Linked DNA regions of Homo sapiens: region 2 is reported to be linked to region 1. Evidence: microRNA targets listed by miRTarBase, many of them from high-throughput screens and not tested one by one. Region 1 holds a microRNA gene; the other region holds the end of a gene's coding sequence.

Region 1 (3,000 bases):
CCTCATTGACTTGCCATCTCTCCACCTTTACCATGAATATTAACCAAATTTCTGTTTTCAGCCTCTTATTTTCTCCCATTTTCTCTCATTACTCTTCCCAGGATGTCTGACCCATTCACATGGCTTTGCTGCTTACCTCTGTCTGTCTATAGTTCTGGTCCTGCCCTTTTCTCAAGTCCCAAACCTACATTTTAAATTGCTGGCTGGGCATCATGTTTATCCAGAAAGCAAGCTGTTACATTCTCTTCTATGCCAGCCCTTCCTCCTCACTTCCTCCAGGTTGGAATAGTGCCTTTATCTTCGGCACCATCTTGGAGTCATGCTTCACTCCTTGTGCCTGCCCCCCACCCTCCATCCCACGCTCTTTTCCCATCTGTCTGGCATGACCAGCTTAGTCAATCTTCCTGAAATGTCACTGGAAAAATAACTCCCCTGGTCAAAACAACTTTCAGTGGGGTTTTGTCACCTTTTATGTTTGGGTAAAGGCTTCCACAGTAACATTTAGGCCTCATTTCATTATGGCCTGAGATTGTCTTCTCATCCCTTTCACACACAGTAGCTAAACTAACCCTCCTGTCAGCCCAGAATGCCTCCTTCTTCATTTGGGGAGATCTTACCCATCTTTCTCGGCTTCTTTCACGCACTGGGTCTTCTGTGACTTCACAGCTGACTAGCCTTCACCCTCTGAGTCTCCAAAGCTCTTTGTTCTTCTTGTCAGGCTTACCCTATGCTGCTATAGATGGCTGCAACCCGTGTTCAATTCAGTTCGATAAACACTGTTGAGCACCTACAGTAGCTGAGCCTGGTGCTAGTCACTGGGGCAAAGATGACTAAAACACTTTTCCTGCCCTCGAGGAGCTCACAGTCTAGTATGTCTCATCCCCTACTAGACTGAAGCTCCTTGAGGACAGGGATGGTCATACTCACCTCGGTGTTGCCCAAACCTCCAGGCCAGTAGCCTAGCTAGCTAGATACAGGAAGAGTCACCCAGGCACTGAATTCAAGGCTTAGAACATATGAGTGATTCTTAATACTAAGGAATGCTCCACTGAGGTAAATTATCTCCAAAAAGTATCCAATACATATTTTTAGAACTACATATAATTACTTTAAATAGGTACCTGTAGTATAATTTATGGATATCTTCTTATATACTACTAGCACAGGTAGTTGAGCATTCATTCATTCTGCATTGTTCTGTTTTAGAAATGGTGTTTAACTTTGCGTTTTGAACATATACAATTAGGCTACCAAATAGGCCACCATTTTATATTATAAAATGTCACTATATAATATAATTGCTTACTTGGACATTTGCATATAACAGTGTATCACAATAACTAAATAGGTTATTAATTTTTTTCAAAATTTTTATTATTTCCAAGATTTTAACAAAGAAATAATAAGTTTGGATAGCCCTTTGGTCGTTAAAATTATGGTAGTTAAAAATGTTTCCCAAATCCCATTCTTCTTCTTGACCTCGAAAGAATTCTCCTTCCCTACCTTGAAAGAATATTTGCAAGTAGACTCAAATTACTGTGGGATTCCCCTCATCTTTAACTGGAGTGTATGCGTGTGTATTTTATTTTGTTGAGGCGGGGTCTCCTCTGTTGCCCAGGCTAGAGTGCGGTGGCACCATCTCTGCTGCCTGCAACCTCCACCTCCCATGCTCAAGTGATTCTCCCACCTTAGCCTCCTGAGTAGCTGGGACTACAGGCATGCACACCACACCACCACACCCAGCTAATTTTTTGTATTTTTGGTAGAGATGGGGTTTTGCCATGTTGCCCAGGCTGGTCTCAAACTCCTGAGCTCAAGCAATCCACCCACCTTGGCCTTTCAAAGTACTGAGATTACAGGCATGAGCCACCATGCCCAGCCTTGTATATTTGTTTTTGACTATATTAGTTGAGAAGTGATTTTTGGTATGGAACATGTTGGGCAAACTCATAGGAAAATCACCTTGGTCCTACTTTGATGAGGTGATGTCTGTGACTCAAGGAACCTGTCCTTCCTACATCCTGTTTACTTATTCATAGGTATGAATTCATTGAGAAGTAGAATGAGATTAACCTGCCAGTGGCCTATTATCAAGTATAAAAAATTCCTCAATAGGAATACTTTCAATTGATCAACAGTGAAATTTTCTTATAATGCGTACTCTAGCATTTTTGTGCTTTATGACTGTCAGGTTATAAGAGCGCACCAAATATTTTTTGAGTGAAAAATCATTTAGCCGGGCGCAGTGGCTCAAGCCTGTAATCCCAGCAGTTTGGGAGGCCGAGGCAGGTGGATCACCTGAGGTCAGGAGCTCGAGACAAACCTGGCCAACATGGTGAAACCCCGTCTCTACTAAAAATACAAAAATTAGCCCGGCGTGGTGGCAGGCACCTGTAATCCCAGGTATTCAAGAGGCTGAGGCAAGAGAGTCGCTTGAACCTGGGGAGGCAGAGGTTGCAGTGAGCCGGTATTGCGCCATTGCACTCCAGCCCGGGAGACAAGAGTGAGACTTTGTCTCAAAAAAAAAAGGGGGGGGGGGGTTTAATTTAATTCCTGGTTACTTCAGTTAATTCTTTGTTAGGTACTATGACAGGGAAACCATAATAAACAGCTTTATTATTTGCCTTTTTGCAGGTATGTTCAAAAATAATATGTCCCAACAGTACTCTTCTTGACTAAGGTGTTGGTACCACTATTTTAAAAAAGAACATCAGCTTTATCTCATATTAGAAAAATATTTTAGGTTAATGTTAAAATTCTTAAATATATTTTAGGCAAATTAGGGCAGTAAACACAATTATCACTTTAAAATTTTGTGTTATGATTTTTGTATATTTTAAAACTTTTTATTGATGTTTAATAAACACACCAAGAAGTGACAGCTTACTGGATTTCCACCAGTTGGATACAGTCTGTCACCAGCAACCAAAATGAAAATACTACCAGCACCCCAGAAATCTTCCACATGCCCCTTTCTAATCACTGTTCACCCTCCAAGGG
Region 2 (3,535 bases), not on the chromosome of region 1:
GCACTGTTGTATTCCAGCCTGGGTGACACCTGTCTCCAAAAAAAAAATTAGCATTTCTAGATCTTTCTTGGAAATATCTTACATTTCAGCTGTGGTCAGATGGACTTACTTTAGATTTCCTAAGTTAGGGTATGGATACTTTGTGGGATAAGATGTTCCTGAAAAATGTCACCCTGTAGCTAGTCATTGAAGACAGTGCCCTCCCAACAGCTCTCTTTACCAGGTGCGAGTTCCAGAGTGTCCTTGGAAGTAATGAAATTACATTCATCTGAAAATGAAATATAACTGAAATTAGTGGCTTCCTGCTTGGCTTCCAGGAGTTTGTATTTCTTAAGTCTTACTGTGATTCCCTAAATCAGAAAGAGTTGGTTATTGATAGTTTATTGTATGCTATTTTAGGATAATCAGTGTCCTTGTATTTTTCAGATATGAAGCAACAGCATGTCATAGAAACCTTGATTGGCAAAAAGCAACAGATATCTCTTGCAACACAAATGGTTAGAATGATTTTGAAGATTGATGACATTCGTAAGCCTGGAGAATCTGAAGAATGAAGACATTGAGAAAACTATGTAGCAAGATCCACTTCTGTGATTAAGTAAATGGATGTCTCGTGATGCATCTACAGTTATTTATTGTTACATCCTTTTCCAGACACTGTAGATGCTATAATAAAAATAGCTGTTTGGTAACCATAGTTTCACTTGTTCAAAGCTGTGTAATCGTGGGGGTACCATCTCAACTGCTTTTGTATTCATTGTATTAAAAGAATCTGTTTAAACAACCTTTATCTTCTCTTCGGGTTTAAGAAACGTTTATTGTAACAGTAATTAAATGCTGCCTTAATTGAAGGGGTTTGGGTGGATTTTTTTTTCTCAAAATAAGCTGTAGGGACTATTTTAACAGCTTAAACAGGAGCTCTCAAGATGCACTTTCATATTGAGAGGAATATGGGCTTGATCCTCTTCCTATCTAAATGGGTGGGCCATTTGATTGTAGAGGGTCCACCACAGAATTATGGGATGCCTTAAGTGCTGTTACTAGGTTGCTCACAGCCTAACCTGGCGTGTTGTTTAGGGCTGATGGAGACCCATGTGAGCCTTTGCTTTCCTCTGGCCCCGGCCCCACCCTGAACACAGCTCATACACAGAATCAGGACCAGCATGTGCAGAGCTGGCCACCAGCACAGGCTTAGGGCAGTTCAGAACCCACTTGTTTCCCTATCAGAGGGACACAGTGAAGTGGAGGTTAAAGTAAATTACAGGAAATAAGGGAGAAATCTTGCAGTTACCATGTTCAGATAGAGTGACTGAAATTAATTGTACTTACTAAAGTATTAACTAGCTAACAGTGATGGGCCAAGACGCTCCGAGAACTCTACCGGGATTGTCTGTTCTGACAACCCAGTGAGGCAGATACACTTTCTTACTGCTCACATCTTACAGGTGAGTACTCATAATTGGCCAGCATCTCACCACCAGCAAGTAGTAGGGCCAGGTCAATCCCAGGCAGTCTGACCCCAGAGTGGCCCAGCTCATCCCCTACTCTGTTATTTGCTTGTTAATGATTCTCTAGATTTTCTAAAATAATGTTTCTTAGCATTGTGATGATAAAGCTCATGATGAACTTTATCACTAGTTATGCCACCTTAACTAGTCAGATTTCCTAGAATTAGGAAATGGTGACTCTTGTCTAAATTTGGTTAAGTGATGAATTTGGGTTACCGTCTCATGTGAACCTGGAGATTCACCAGTCTTAACTTTTGGGTCATTGTGTTTTCTCTACATTCATGCATTGGATGTTTTGCTAAATAACTCCTGTGGATTTAGGAATGTGTGCTAATAGCAATCTTCCTAATTTTCATGTTTATATGGAACTATGCAGTTGAGTATTGAAAGCTTTAAACTGAGTTTATTTACAAGGACTGAGTCTAGCCTACAGAGAACATACAGCAGCCTTCTTTGGACCACAGTCTTATCCGAGGGGTCTGTGGTTGTATCAGAAGAGCCACTAAACCAATCCCCCTTTCCAAAATTGAACCTCACAGACGTTCCTGTTTTTTGTGATTGAGAAACTGGTCAATGAACAGGAAGACTTAGAGATGTTTCACAAGCCTTTGATTTTTGTTTCATTTATTTGTAATAAACCTCTTCCACGTGATGTCTTTTATTTTTCACGTTCCAGATCACTCAAGTTTTATTTTGCTGGTACTTTGGCCACACCCTCTCCTTCCCCATGTGGAGCAAAAGCAACTTAGGGTGCTTGACCCAAAGGCTAGATTCCCATGTAAGTCCCCATGTATTACTGCTGGTTCCCGATTTCTACACCTGCTAGATTCATTGGAGGTTTGTTAAATGTCCTGTTTTTAATTTCAGCCTACTCAATTTCTATGTGGGGGCAGTTCCAGGATGTCCTGTAGGTGCCAGATTTCATGGACGCTCAAGTCCCTGATAAAAATCGTGGTATTTGCATATAACATACATCCTCCTGTATACTTTAAATCATCTCTATTATTCATAATATCTAATATAAATGATATGTAAGTGTCATACTGTATTTAGGGAGTAATGACAAGAAAAAATCTACATGTTCAGTACAGATGCAATTTTTTTCTCTGAATGTTCTCAACCTGAGGTTGGTTGAATTCAGATGAGGGTCAACTCTGCAAGCAGCCGCTGTGAGGCACAAATGTCACAGGGAGGGCTAAGAGGCCCATCTCTCTGTTACATTGGACTGAATTTCTTGACTCTCATTTTCTTTCTCTAGGTGAAACAGCTCCAACAGATTGAGGGTTGGGGGGTGTGGCCAGAGGAAGGTGACACGGTAGTAACTGACTAATCAGTAATTTGTAAGCATGGAGAAGTTTCTCCAACCTAGGTGTTCCTTGCAGGCAGTCTTGGCAGAATGGGGTCATCTAAAAGCACCAGAAAAGTGGGGACCAAAGGCAAATGGCCGAGAAAGTGTTGAAGGGCAGGAAAAGTGGGGAAAACACGACAAGGTAGTAAAAATATAAATGTGTGTGCCCTATCACTGCTCTAAATGGTTTATGTACATTAAAACTGGTTTTCAAAGTCTGCTCCATGGATCCCTCGGGGTCCTGGGTCTTTCCAAGGGGCCTATGAGTCAAATGTATTTTCCTACACTGAAGTTACTGCCCTTTTCACTGTGTTGACTTTTGCACTGATGGTGCAAAAGCAGTGACCATTAAAACCACACCTTAGTGTGAGTCAGGTAGTGGCACCATACACTTTCAAAAAGAAAATCATCTTTTTGGCCAGGTGCAGTGGCTCGCACCTGTAATCCCAGCACTTTGGGAGGCTGAGGCAAGAGGAGTCGCTCTAGCCCAGGAGTCAGAGACCAGCCTGGGCAACATACACCCTGTCTCTACCAAAAATAAGTTAGTTGGGCCTGATGGCATGCTTATATGGTCCCAGCTACTTGGGAGGCTGAAGTGGGAAGATCCTTTTGAGCCCAGGAGGTTGAGGGTGCAGTGAGCCATGGTCACACCACTGCAATCCAGCCTGGATGACAGAGC

The links. Region 1 holds the annotated microRNA hsa-miR-151a-5p (UCGAGGAGCUCACAGUCUAGU, at 851-871, shown strand). A microRNA usually pairs through its seed, bases 2 to 8, with sites in the 3' UTR of a target mRNA and lowers its output. Matches are read on the target gene's strand: a 7mer-m8 pairs with bases 2 to 8, a 7mer-A1 pairs with bases 2 to 7 and ends in A, and an 8mer does both.
Region 2: the mRNA of CCT5 is a reported target of hsa-miR-151a-5p. The part of its 3' UTR that is shown has no 7-base or 8-base seed match.

Annotation. Positions count from the first base shown.
Region 1 is chr8:140,730,494-140,733,493 of GRCh38, reverse strand. MIR151A (microRNA 151a) reads left to right here and starts at 841; the gene lies at 841-930. All of the region lies in intron 25 of PTK2 (protein tyrosine kinase 2), which reads left to right.
Region 2 is chr5:10,264,230-10,267,764 of GRCh38, forward strand. It overlaps CCT5 (chaperonin containing TCP1 subunit 5), which reads left to right. Exons shown (of 11, transcript NM_012073.5): 11 at 427-2,160. The coding sequence ends at 554. Among named protein-coding and RNA genes, the nearest start is that of CCT5, 16 kb to the left of the region's middle.